Linked DNA regions of Homo sapiens: region 1 is linked to region 2. Evidence: fine-mapped QTL for protein levels in blood plasma. A gene starts in region 2. The other region holds a variant in brackets. All regions are shown on one strand. Distances are from middle to middle. Region 1 overlaps PDGFRB (platelet derived growth factor receptor beta). Region 2 holds the start of PDGFRB (platelet derived growth factor receptor beta).

Evidence for each region. PIP is the chance, under the fine-mapping model, that this variant and not a neighbour inherited with it causes the effect. Protein levels are from antibody-based Olink assays in UK Biobank. Linkage for the fine-mapping came from a reference panel and not from the study's own genotypes, which makes the PIPs less certain.
Region 1: its variant is fine-mapped to the plasma level of the PDGFRB protein (UK Biobank, PIP above 0.99).

Annotation. Positions count from the first base shown.
Region 1 is chr5:150,124,498-150,129,757 of GRCh38, reverse strand. It overlaps PDGFRB (platelet derived growth factor receptor beta), which reads left to right. Exons shown (of 23, transcript NM_002609.4): 10 at 1; 11 at 3,144-3,238; 12 at 4,181-4,313; 13 at 4,927-5,031. Among named protein-coding and RNA genes, the nearest start is that of PDGFRB, 29 kb to the left of the region's middle. RefSeq lists an enhancer at 1,467-1,968. The variant G/C (reference allele first, on the strand shown) is at 777.
Region 2 is chr5:150,152,502-150,161,232 of GRCh38, reverse strand. PDGFRB (platelet derived growth factor receptor beta) reads left to right here and starts at 5,388. Exons shown (of 23, transcript NM_002609.4): 1 at 5,388-5,836. RefSeq lists enhancers at 1-307, 1,094-1,163, 2,682-3,470, 7,628-8,147, 8,148-8,668.

The DNA.
Region 1 (5,260 bases), 30 kb after region 2:
TGTGAGTCCCCAGCCTCAGTGGCCCCTGACGATCCCAATCCCTACCTTAATCCTGCCTAATTGGTAATGTGCCCATGTACCCACAGCAGGCCAAAGGAGTTAGCATGCCCAGGGGCAAACAGGAGCATTGTGAAACCCTGTTGTGTACATGCATAGGAACACATTCTGGCAAACACAATATGGGTACACACGTGTACAAACACAAGTCTGTAAGCCATGGATATGAATATCCTTCAGTGTGGTGTACATATACTATATGTATGTCGTAAGCCATGTACATGAGCATGCCTGTTCCTTGAACATAGGTGCAAATCCTCTGTGTGTAGATATGTAAATCGTCTACTGAAGAATGCCCAATCTCCAGTCACTCCTGTAAAGCTAGAGTGTATGTGTATAAGCATACACCTGTGCACTATGCCTGTCCATGTATGTAAACCCACCACGTGTTTGTAAGCCATGTACATGAGCATGCCTAATTCCCAGACATCTGTTTAAACCCCACAGTGTATGTCTGTATGCATGTACCGGTGGGTACACAATTCCTGTACATGTGTACAAGCAATGCATGTACAATTCCTTTGCATGCATGCAAACTGGCATAGTGCATGTCTGTAAGCATATAATTGGAGCACACCTTTCTAGAAAAGTGTACAAGCATAATTCCCGTACACATGTGCCTGCTGTACAATGTACATCTGTTAGCAGGTACACATACACGTGTAATTTCTGTGCGTATGAACAATGCCTACCAGTGTCTTGATGCTTTTGTGTATCTA[G/C]CTGCCCGTCCTTATGCATACATGCACCTGTATGAGTGTGCTTCATTTATTCACCTTTCTTCTTCATTCGATAAATATGAGGACCCAACTTCTCATTGAAGTATAAAGGTCAAAGGGCTCAGCCCTGCCTGGACCTCCTAGTACCCATAGTCCAGAGAGAGAAGGCAGACAAGGAACTTGGCAATTCCCTCCGGGATCACCACATTAGGGGCAAAGCCTGGAGGGAGAAGGGGTCCCATGCCCAGCTATGGGATTCAGGAAAGTATTCTAGAAAAGGAACCTTTAGGTGAAAACCTGAAAAATGACTAGAAGTTAGCCTGGTAAGGAATGGTGTCCCACTCAGAGGGAATGGCCTGTGTAAAAGCCCAGAGGCAAAATGAGTTCCTAGAAATGAAAAGAGTTCAACTCAATCTGGCTGGAGGATCGAGTGTGTGGATACTTAGGGGCTGGAAGGGTGGCAGATAAAGGGGAAGGAAGTGCTATGGGATGGAGCTACAGGGGTCGGCAGATCTAGAGCAGGCAGGGCTCCAAAGGCCATGTGAGGCATCTTGGTCTCTGTGTATGCAGGTCCCTGGGCATGTTCAGGCACGTGCCTGTCTAGAGCTGCCTCCTGTCCCCTGCCCTGTGGTGGATGGGTGGGCTTCTTTCATCCCCTCATTTCACCCATGCTCCCACACATGCATACACATTCTCTGAGCAAGTGGGTATCTGGGCAGACAGTGTGGACAGCCTGAGTGGAAGACCAGCTCTGAGCCAAGGCAGATGTGACACTTTTGTGTGACTAAAGCCTGAGCGGGAAGCTGAGCACCAGCACACAGGGCCTAGGATGGCTGCAAGAGGGCTCCTTCATGCCTCCAGCGATGGCTGCCTAGAAGATGCAGGCTTCCTTCCCAGGACCGAGATGTGTGATGAGCGGGAGGAGGGAGGAGAAGAGGGATGTTGGTCTGGGACCCTGAGGAGGAAGGCATGGCGAGGATAGGTAAGGGTAAGGGAGAATGGATAAGGGGTGAGAGACGAAGTTGGAGAGGGAAGCAGAGGTAGAGTCATGAAGCCTCTGCCTTATGTGCCATTTTAGGAGTTTGGCCTTTTTCCTTTACTGATAACATGGGGAAGCATCCAAAGTTTTTTTTTTTTTTTTTTTTTTTTTTAAGATGGAGTCTGGCTCTGTTGCCCAGGCTGGAGTGCAGTGGTGTGATCTCGGCTCACTGCAAGCTCTGCCTCCCGGGTTCAAACAATTCTCCTGCCTCAGCCTCCCAAATAGCTGGGATGACAGCAGTCCACCACCACGCCCAGCTATTTTTTGTATTTTTAGTAGAAATGGGATTTCACCATATTGGCCAGGCCGGTCTTGAACTCCTGACCTCGTGATCCGCCCACCTTGGCCTCCCAAAGTGCTGGGATTACAGGCATGAGCCACTGCACCCAGCCTCCATCCAAAGATTTTAAGCATAACAATGGCATTCACTTAGTAATTCAACAAATAGTACCAGCTACCTACCATGTGCCAGGTGTGGTTTTAGGGACTGAGGTTATAGCAATGGATGGGGAGGAGGAGGTGGGACAGGACTCCCTAGGGAGCAAAGAAGCATAGATTGGGGACAGAAGAGGAGGGAATGAGTTCCATAGGACCTCATGGGTGGCCAGCAGGGCAGGGCAGGGGAGAGGCAGGTCTGGCGGGGCTGGATGAGGAGAGTGGGAAGCTGTACAGCGAAGAGGCTGAGGCCTTGAGGGTGGAGGAGACTCGAGGCTTGTAAGGGCCAGTGTGAGCCCCACTTTGTTAACTACCGTCACCACTCCAACCCCAACTGGGCCCTTTGGGTGAAGTGGGGAGAAGTGGCCTCCGTGCTGAGGTCTGGATTCATCAGGCTGGGGGTCTCAGCCATTGCTCCCTCAGTGGCCACTCACTCAGTCCACCGGCCACTCGGTCAGGCATGGAGCTTGGAGTCTGACCGAGCTGTGGCAGCCCCAGCAAGGGTGTGGACTCAGAGGAGAGGTAAGCCACAACCCAGCCCTCAGGGGCTCCAGGGCTAATGGGAGGTCCAGGCAATGGACAGGAACTCAGAACAGGATTTGCACCCCGTCCAGAGCTCTGGCAGCAAGGCCAGACTGACTGGCAGGGCTGAAGGGACGTGGAGGCCAGCAGTGATCTGAGTGGGGGTAGTTACTGAGGGGATGGAGTATTTACAGGACAGTCTGAACGTGTGGCCTAGAGCGAGATGCTGAGGGTCTGACACTGCAGGCTGATGGGGAGGTGGGCGCTTCTATTCTGGACAGGATGTGTACGGAGGGATCTATGATGCCAAAGATGGGGTGAGGGGAGGGTAGCTGCCCAGTTTGCTCATGGCCTGCTCTCATCTCTGCCTCCAGCCTTGCCCTTTAAGGTGGTGGTGATCTCAGCCATCCTGGCCCTGGTGGTGCTCACCATCATCTCCCTTATCATCCTCATCATGCTTTGGCAGAAGGTAAGCCCCTCCCTGGCCCAGTGGGTGAAGACTGGCACATCATTATTTTGCATAAATTCCACCCCTCTGCCCTCCTTGAATGCTGCGTGATCTGGCCACATGCAGGGCTCAGCATGGAACTCAGGTGGGGACTTGTGACGCTGGCTGTCTCAGCTTCCTCCACCCCCAGCAGTCTGGGCCAACCTGAGCCTGGCCCGAGCTATCCAGGATTCCCTTCCCCTACTGTGTCATTAAGTCCCCGGGTCCTGCTGAGACACCATTCCTCTCATCCTAGCCATGGAGCATGGGACCTTTGAGGTGGACTGCATGGGCTCCAGGATTCTTCCAGGTCTCACCCATGGAGAACCTGTGATTCTACTGAAATGCATTCTGATCCTATTAGTCTGTAATTTCAGTGTTCTGCTTTGAGATTTTACCATTCTGTGATTCCAACATTTTAAGCTTCCTGAATCAGGATTACAGCACCTCATGATCCCATCTTTCTAAAATTCCAGTCCTGTGGTTCCAACACCTTAAGATGTCAACATTCTAAGCTTACATCTTTCTGACTTGCCCAGCACTGGGGAGGGCCATCCGCATCCAGCCGAGTACCCTACCTGGTGTCACTTTCTGGGGTCACCTGCTCTACTACTTCCATCTGAGGAGCAGCGAAGGCTGGGAGAGAAGCTAGAGAGGAGGTTCTCATGAGCCAGGCCCTCAGCTGCCAGTTGCTCCTCAGTCTGCCAAGTCCTGAAGCCTCCTCTGGGGCCCCTTGGTCCCTGTTCCCTCCGAGCCCACGAAGACCTTGGCTCAGTTGAGCACTTGCTGTGTGACTTCAAATATGCCCCTGCCCCTCTCTGGGCCTCAGGGTCTCCTGCCCCATGTGTCCTAGACGGACGAACCTAATGGGGCTCAGGGCCTGAGACTCCCTCTGATAACTAATTCCTGGGGTTGGTCCTCCAGAAGCCACGTTACGAGATCCGATGGAAGGTGATTGAGTCTGTGAGCTCTGACGGCCATGAGTACATCTACGTGGACCCCATGCAGCTGCCCTATGACTCCACGTGGGAGCTGCCGCGGGACCAGCTTGTGCTGGGTCAGTCCTGAGAGGCCTCATGTGGCAGTGTGGGGACTCAAGTTGGGTGGGAAGACTCTCTGAGGTCTGGTCCCAGCCTTGCCATGACTAGCTATGAGACCTAGGGCTGGTGTCTTGCCTTCTCTGGCCCTCCATCTCCTACTATGTACAATGAGAGCAAGACCATCCCCCAGGAACTGCCTAGCATTGAGGTTCTATGATCCTGTGACCCTGTGAGACGGGATCCCTATGTGGCAAAAGTGGAAGGATTGAGGACAGGCTGAGTAGCAGGCCTGGTCTGGCTGGGGAAGCTGAGGAGGTACAGAGAAGCGTGCTCCCTTGGGAGGGAAGAAACTTTCCAGAGATTAAAGATGGGGCAGAAAGCAGGCAGGACTTAGATGAGATACCAGGAAAGACAGGGAGGTATTGTGGTTGCAGGAGTGTGTTTAGGGAATATCCTGAGTCCAAGGTGGTTTAAGTAATGTCTAGGTTGACCTAAGAGAGTGGCTCTTTCCCCTCACTGGGCAGGAAGGGTGATAGCGGCCGGGGGTAGGGGAGTGGGGGGAGGGGGGCAGCTGGGGGAGCGGTGCAGCTTCCTGGTAGGCCAGGAGCTAATGGATCATCTCTGCACCAGGACGCACCCTCGGCTCTGGGGCCTTTGGGCAGGTGGTGGAGGCCACGGCTCATGGCCTGAGCCATTCTCAGGCCACGATGAAAGTGGCCGTCAAGATGCTTAAATGTGAGTAGTCCTTGGAGCCCTCCACATCTGGGCCTTCACCTCTCCCTGCCCCTCCCCACACACTTAGCCTCTCCCAGGGTGGCCTGATGCTGATTTGCAGGCACTAGAGGGGCCATCACACTGCAGCAGGCACTGCTCCCGAGTCTGGGTCTGGTTTGGGAAAGAGCGTTCCTCTCCCTGGCCTCCTCGGCCTGCTTCCCCCTACCCTGGCCTCTTCCCCTCCTCAGAG
Region 2 (8,731 bases):
AGCCCTGATGCCTGGCCACTGACCACCTCTCCAATCTTCCATCCCACTGCCGGCTCTCTGCCTCAACCATTCTTTTCTCTTTGTTCGAACCCATCAAGATCTCTCTGGCCTCCAAGCTTTTGCAGATGCTTTTCCCCCTGCCTCGAACACTGTTCCTACTCCTGAATGTGTGTGGCCTCACAGGCCTGCTTCCTCCCCACAGAAGCCCTATTGTACCTGAACAAGAACTCCCATCCACCCAGCTCATTATTCTCTTTGTCTCTTTCATCACACTCATCACAATTTGATATTATTAATTTGTGGTTTCCTCGGTGTTTGCTTGTGAACTCTGTGAGGACAGGAGGACAGGGCACATAGTAGGTCCTCAATTAACTTCTATCGCATGGATGGATGGTTGGAGGAACAGTTATCTTAGTGATAACTGGGTGTTAGATGGAGAGGCCCCACCCTAGGCCTGCTGTGTGCCCTCAAAAAAGTTCTGGTGCTCTCCAGACCTTAGGAGCCAGTGTATTCAGTGAGGGTGAGGGCCCTGCTCTTCTGGGGATCTATGAGCCATCTGCGTGTACCAGATGGACACACTCAAGTTGCCCACGGTCCTGGGGCTGAGAGGGAGGCCAGCAAGGGGGCAAGGAGAGGCTGAATGGGCAGTGTCTTGAAGCCTTTATCTCCTGGGACCCTGGCAGACCTCGGTGGCTACAGTCTGGCTCAGTAAGACAGTCCTAAGAATCTAGGGAGGGAATGTGGCCCAAGGCCCCTGCTGGTCTTTTGCCCACTCAGAAAGCCACTACACTGAGTGTCCAGGAGGTAGGGGGACAGTTCCCACTCTGTGCCTCTCTGGCTCCCCAGCCACAGGCACAAGGATCTACGTGCTCTGCTCAGGGCATGCATGGGTGGAAGGACACTGAGCTGGGGATCAGGAGTCCTGTATTCTAGCTTCCCTCAGCCCCACCGTGAACCTCAGACAAGTCCCCTCCACTCTCTGGGCCTCAGTGTCCATGCCAGCAGAAGGGACATATCTTAGGGTCCTGACGTCTAAGATGACTGTGTGAGCGCCTGGGGTATGTGTGCTGCTTCCTCATCACCCCCCACCCCCACCCCACAACTCTGCCTGGGGAGCCTGGGAGTGGGGGCAGAGCCAGGAGCGTGGGAGAGCCAGATGTGGTGGCCGCTGCCCTGCCTGAGTGAGGGCTGAGCGGCCTCCTGGGAATTCTCCCACTCAGGCTCCCTTTCCGGTTCCCTCCCCCTGCCCCACTGAGAGCAGCAACTTCCGGCTCTGACAAGCGTGGGTGGGGGAGGGGGGTCTTAGCACGGGGGTCTGTTCAGCCTGGTTCCCTCCTCTGGGGAAGAGCATGGGCTTATGAGTCTAGACAGAAAGCCTCGGTTCCAGTCCCAGTCTGTGGCTGACACATCACAAGGCCTTGCACAAGTTCCTTTCCATCACTGGCCTCAGTCATACCGGCTGTGTAATGAGCATGTTGGTGAGCTTCCCTCCAGCCCTGATGGTGGACTTCTATGACAGCAGCTCTTGGTAACACCTGAGGATCAGTCACCTTTTTTTTTTTTTTTGAGATGGAGTTTCACTCTTGTTGCCCAGACTGGAGTGCAATGGCGCCATCTCAGCTCACCACAACGTCTGCCTCCCGGGTTCAAGCAATTCTCTGGCCTCAGCCTCCCGAGTAGCTGGGATTACAGGCATGCACCACCACACCCAGCTAATTTTGTATTTTTAGTGGAGACTGGGTTTCTCCATGTTGGCCAGGCTGGTCTCAAACTCCTGACCTCAGGTGATCCACCCACCTTGGCCTCCCAAAGTGCTGGGATTATAGACGTGAGCCACCGCGCCCAGCTGGATCAGTCACCTTTTGTGGCACTTTCTTGTTTTGCTCGAGGCTTGACAAAATGCCTGTGGGCATGGCTTATTCAGGTCTCTCCACAACCCTGTGAGGTAGGCACATGTGTCCCCATTTCACAGTTGAAGGTACTGAGGCTCAGAGAGCTCAGGTCATATCATCTCCCAGCGTCACATGGCTGGGAAGTGGTGGAGCTGGGTTGGAGCTGCCAACATCAGAGTCCAGACATTTAACTCTTGAGTGTGCCACCGTGCTGTGGGGGAAGGCAGTGTGGAACCCTAAGGCCCAGAGCCCCCCTCTCCCACTGTACCCCATCCCAGTCCACTTCAGGCAGGGCTCCCCACATTCCATGCTCTGCCCACCTACTCTCAGCCCAGGCTTCCCCAAGACAGCATTGTCCAAGGCTGGACTGGGTTCCCAGTATCTGTGTAGGTGTGAGGATGTTCATAGCTTGTCCTGTCCACAGTGGGGCTGGGGGCCATGCTGACCACCCCAGGGTGATGGTGCTGCACTGCCCATGTGCCCCGTCCATTGCCGCTGAAGGCAGAGTGCACAAGGGGAATCCAAGACCCAGAAAAGGGAGGCTCCGCCCAGGAAGACACAGTGATGGAATGCTGCTCGAATGAGGAAACTCACTATTTCAGTAATAGTGTACACTTAGTACACTTCGAGGCAATGTACTAAGTCCTTTGTACAAACCGAAGAGTCTTATGAATCAGTCTTTGACTTGTCTCCATTTTCCAGAGGAGGAAACCAAGGCCAGGAGTTTAAGTGACTTGCCTAAGCTCATGTAGCTTGAAACTGGAGCAGCTGGGATTCGAACCCAGCTCTATCTCTAGCTCTCCAACCTCCTCTGTCAATCATGACAATTTTGCCCCTTGGTGAGTGCCCTGGGTTGCTCCCTGTAGCTCTGCACCTCCCACCCATATCTCAGTTGAGAGGAGGAGTGACAGTCCTGGTGCCCACCAAGGGTTAATGGCAGTAGGGGCTAAGTAATTCCAGATGGGCCTCAGGACGGCTGGGCTGGCCGGAAACTGGAGGCCGCCAGCTTCCCAGGGGAGCCACCGCCAACTGCCCCTCCCCTTTGTGCTGCATCTCTGGCCCCAGCTGTACCCCTGCCCTAGGGCCCACCAGCCTCCTCTCCCTTGCTAGAGTCCAGCTCTAAGGGAAATTGCAGACGGACCATCCCAAGGGCCTTGTAGCACAGTGAGTCCACAACTGTTATGTACAAATAGGGAAACCGAGGCTCAGGCAGGGCAAGGGACTTATTCAAGTTCTCCTGATAAGTCTGTGGCTGGGTCTTCTGACTCCCAGACTAGCTTCTTTGGGGACTAGGGGGTTGGTGTGTCTCGTGGCCTCCCCCAGGCTGGCCTGGCTGCAGAGGGTCAGCCAAGGATTCAGAGGTGAATGGCCCAGGCAGATGCTAGGAGGGGAGTCGTAAATTTCTGACGGAATCTTTGGGCACAAGAAATCCCTGTGCAAGCCTGACCTTGTGGCCTGTGGGATCTTTTCACATTCCCCTATTTCCCTGTTGCCACAAAGACCTGGCCAGGCCCCCTCTCTCGGGGTACTCTTATGGTCCCCAACCCGTGGCTGGGAACCAGTCTGAGAACACTTCTCCTTCTATGTGGTCCAGCCCAGATGCTCTGCTGGGCAATCCCGATTGGGACTAGACCAAGAAATGCAAGATAGTTGACTGTGGTGGGCATGGAATCCCAGCTCACGCAAATCCTCTGCTCTGTGAACAGGGGTCTGGGGGAAGCTGAGGAGGAAAGACTTAGCGGCGCAGAGGGAAGGAGGGCAGAGCCAGCCTCTACCTGTGTCACCTGGGACAGCTTTCTTCACCCTCTGGAATTCAGTTGCCCTGTGGGTGCAGTAGTGGGAGCAGGGGTGGTAAGCCCACTCTATATGCCCTTCTAAAATAATGCCCTTTGCCATCTGAGGGCTAGGAGTCTGTAACTGGAGATGTCTTCTGATCTGAGAAGCTGAGGGTGGAAGAAGAGACCCAGCTGGGGGAACTGGAGGAGTCTTGGCAGACCCTGGTAGGAAAGGAGAGCCAGAGAATGGAAATGGAACAAAACGGATACTTGAAAGTATCTTGTTGAGGCTGGGTGCGGTGGCTCAAGCCTGTAATCCCAGCACTTTGGGAGGCTGAGGTGGGTGGATCATGAAGTCAGGGGTTTGAGACCAGCCTGGCCAACATAGTGAAACCCGGTCTCTACAAAAAATACAAAAATAGCCAGGTGTGGTGGTGTGCGCCTGTAATCCCAGCTACTTGGGAGTCTGAGGCAGGAGAGTCACTTGAACCTGGGAGGCGGAGGTTGCAGTGAGCCTAGACTGCGCCATTGCACTCCAGCCTGGGAGACAGAGCAAGACTCCATCTCAAAAAAAAAAAAAAAAAAAAAAAGAAAGTATCTTGTTGAGTGACTGAATGAAAGAGCCACAGGGGGAACCTAGGAAGAAAGCAGGGCAGGGGGTTCATCTACACTGGAATAGGGGTCTCGGGTGGGGGTCAGATGACTTGTGTCTCTTCCATCATGTGTCTCATGAGACCTAGTTCTGCCCCAGCTCTGCCATTGCTGCGTAAGCTTGGGAAGCTTATTTTGCTCCTCTGGGCCTCAGTGTCCCCATCTATAAAATGGGGCAAATAATCCTCTCCTTGCACCCCAGGGGCTTTGAGACGTGAAAAGGAATGTATCTGTCAATATCCAGAGATATCCAATCTGTGCTGGATGACCTTGACCAAATCACATTCCCTCTCTGTGCCAATTCACCCCTGGGCCTTGGTTTGTCCTTCTGAAAAACGGCTGATCATCTTGGAGGATCTTTCCATCTCCTCCATGTCACCTCTTCTCAGCAGTGCTCTCTGATTCTCTCAGGCTTCCGTTAGGGGTCCTTCTAAATGCACTCTCAGCCTCCTGTCTGCCGACCGGGCACCTGCTTGCCCAATGAATATCTTGCTCACTAGCCTGGTGCTTCTGAGGTCAGGACCACGTCTTGCTACTGTCCCCTGCACCCAGTACAGTGTTAGAATGTAGTAAATGCTCAGTATGCTTGTTCAATGAATGAAGGTTGACTGAATCAACCACAGAGATGATCAGAGTCTCCTTTACAGATGGGGAAACTGAGGCACTGAGAAATGATCTCCCTGGGTGCCATGGCAAGGGGAGGCCGCCACCCGACATGGGCATCGGGAAAGTGGGGCCGAGGCCACTCTTTGACAAAAGTGACTCAGCAGCTGGCGGCTGGCGTGGGCTGTGGAATTTCTAAGCATCCCCTCACATCCTGAGCGAACGGGCGATGGGAGGGAGTAAGCAGAGTGAAAAGAAGAAAAACAAGAAACTTGGGGGAAAAGAAAGAGAGAGGGGGAAAAAAACTGAAATTGAAAACAGACGCACGCGTCCACCCTCCCTGCCCCGCCGCCCCCCCTTCTCCCAGCTGGGCCAATCAGAAGCCACCCTGCAGCCTTTCCCCCAAAGTGGCGGGGGAAGTGGGGGGGCATGGAAGCCCATAGTGGTGTGAGCTCCTGAGGCTGCCAGCAGCCAGCAGTGACTGCCCGCCCTATCTGGGACCCAGGATCGCTCTGTGAGCAACTTGGAGCCAGAGAGGAGATCAACAAGGAGGAGGAGAGAGCCGGCCCCTCAGCCCTGCTGCCCAGCAGCAGCCTGTGCTCGCCCTGCCCAACGCAGACAGCCAGACCCAGGGCGGCCCCTCTGGCGGCTCTGCTCCTCCCGAAGGATGCTTGGGGAGTGAGGCGAAGCTGGGCCGCTCCTCTCCCCTACAGCAGCCCCCTTCCTCCATCCCTCTGTTCTCCTGAGCCTTCAGGAGCCTGCACCAGTCCTGCCTGTCCTTCTACTCAGCTGTTACCCACTCTGGGACCAGCAGTCTTTCTGATAACTGGGAGAGGGCAGTAAGGAGGACTTCCTGGAGGGGGTGACTGTCCAGAGCCTGGAACTGTGCCCACACCAGAAGCCATCAGCAGCAAGGTAAGTGCTGGAAAAAGTGGGAACCCCAGCCCCATGCCCTGTCCCTTTGCCCTAACCTGCATCTCTTCGAGTAGGTAAAAAAAAAAAAAAAAAAAAAAAGGGAAGATATTTTTAACAAAACAAGATGAGAGGAGGCTGGGAGACTGTGGGTGATGTCAGGGATGGAGGAGCCAGTTTTCTCCTTTCCCCTGCTCTGGGGTGAGTGGCCTCCACCTCATCATCCCTGCTGCTCCTGCCTTCATCAAACAATCCTCAGGGGTTTCTGGGTGCTGACTGGGGGCCTCCAAAGCACAGCACAGTCAATGGGGAGTGGGGAGAGCTGGGAAGAGCGGGAGAGGGGAATTGGGAGAAGGTAGGCAGGGTACACAGAAAGCAGGGGACTGGGGACCTCAGGACCATAGCCGCTGTTCCTTGGCCCAAGCCTTGTTTCTAAGAATCAGTCTGGCTTTAGGCCAGTCAGCCGCCAGGCAACCTCTGGGGATTTAAATGGATTTGCAAATTTTCTAGATTCTTAAGATATCCTTCTAAACCCCCAGCAGCTAGAAAAGTTTGAGGGCTAGGAAAGTTCGAGGGTGATGGGCGGCCATGGCAACCCCCTAGCGGTCATGCTGCTGGGTCTGGGGGCTGGGACCTGGCTGTCAGATCTGGGGGCTCCTCTGTGAAGAAGGGGTCAGCCACTGGGCCATTTCCTTTGGTCCCAGGCAGCTGCTCAGGCCTCCTCGTTGTCTCCCTCCTTCTGGACTCTACCCCTTCTCCATGCCATTCTAAAGCATAAATCCAATCACACCACCTCCCTGCCCAGGATCCGCCTATGGCTCCCCAGTGCCTGGAGAAAGTCCCAGCTCCTAACAGAGGCTGCCACTGCTTGACACTTACTGCACGCCGCAACTGTGCTGAGTGCTTTATGAGACTGATCTCATGTAATGCTCACCAGCAACCCCAGAGGCAGTGACTGTTTTTACCTCCGTTTTATACATGAGGAACTTGAGGCTCACGCAGCCACATAACTGTAGCCACACAGCTAGTAAGTGGCACAGCCTGGAGAGGTTGGAATCTCCCCGTGCCCCATTACTCCAAACTTGGGCCTTTTGTTCCCGCCAGTCAGATCCCAGAATTCCCAGAAGGAATGCGCACCATCCTGCTTGTGGGCATTTGCCCTCCCTCTTCCCCCTTTCTGGAATGCCCTTCCTCATCACTTTTCTTTCAGGGATATTCCATACACCACCTCTTCCAGGCAGCCTTCCTAGGTTCTTCCTGTCTTCCAAGTGCTAGCCATGCACTTTGTGCTGAAGCCATGTTACTTGGCCCTCCCCTGTTGGTGATCTGTTTATGTTCTGTTTGTTCATCAGAGATTGTTCAGGCCCCAGCAGTCAGAACTGAGGCCGCACTTTCTGCTGGGGAAAGGTTTAAGGTTTCCCCATCCTGTGCTCTTCCCCCAGTGCCCAGCCCTGGATAGGCAGTGCGGCTGAAAAAATGTCCTGGTGAAAGGGAGGAGGAGCTCACTGAAGACCTTCTGCTCCCAAGTGTGAGACTAGAACCCAGGCCTCCAGCCTTCTCACAGGTGCCCTTCCAGGACATCGTGTGGCTACTCCAGGCAGCATTCCTCCATTGCAAGCAGGGAGGAGTATCTCTGCTTCCCTCTGTGACCTCCCAATTGCACAGAGGCCTCTAGTGACAAGTTCTGAAGTCATGCAGTCCTCCCCTGTCTCCAAGCAGGAGACCCTGAATCCACAGCCTTCAGGGACATACAGTCCCTGAACACCTACCTCATGCAGGCATAGAGCCTGGTACTTCACACACCTTGGAGTCCTCATGGCAAGTTTTTGAAATCAGTGTTATTACCTACTTTTTGTAGATGAGGAAGCTGAGATCTGGAGAGGCTAAGTGACTTTCCCAGGGCCATACGGTGAGTTAAGGTGGTGTTTAGGCTGAAGTCTGCCTGACTCTAAAGGCTTACCTCGTGCTCCCCGGGAAGCTCCCAGTCAGAGGGAAGAATCTCCATCCTCCTGCAGAGCCTGCTCCTGGCTTCAGCACCTTCCCCAGCAGAAAGTGCAGCCTCAGGTCTGACTGCTCCAAGGTCTGCCCGGGCCCTGGCTTGGTCTTGAGAGAGGAAAGAGACCATCTGGTCAGCACCCTCCTCCCAGACAGCAGTTATCAGCAGCCCCCCTCCTCTGCGGGAAGAAGAGCTGGGACTTATAATTGCCCACACATGTGGGGCAGGCAGTGGAAAGCACCGTGGATCCAGAGTCAGGAGACCCAGTGCTTGCCCTGGCTTGATTTAAATCCACCGTGTGGCCAACCTCAGACCCCCCACATCCCATCTCTGGGCTCCTTCCGCAGCTGGGAGGCAGTGAGCGCTGTGGGTAACCAGCACCAGGCTTGGGCATCAGATGACTATGCATTGACCCCGAGTCAGTTTCTGGCTGACTGTGTGACCCCGGGGCAGCACCTTGCCTCTCTGGGCCTCAATCTCCTTCTCTGTGAGCAGCAGGACCGTGTGTGGGCTCCATGAGACAACAGCATTGGCAAGGTGCTTACCACAGTTCCTGCACTTCACAGCTGGACCTCTGGCCACTGGCTGAGAGAACCACTGCTCTCCTGGCCTCCTGCATTGGAACACTTGGCTGTGAAATTAATCTGCAACCTGCAAAAGGCTCTGCCCACAGAAGGGACCTGGACACCATGTATGTTCCAAAGATCCGTGTCCATCCTCCAGGCACAGGCCACAGTCTGACTCTGAGACCAGCTGCCTTCTAGGCTAAAGGAGGGTGCTCTGGGCATTGGCTCAGAACAGGCTGCTGCTGAATGCAGTGGGAAGGGAGAAAGGGATGAAAAGGTCTTCTGAAATGCCCACCCATTTCTTGCATTTGATTCAGAACCCAGTGGGCAGTGGGT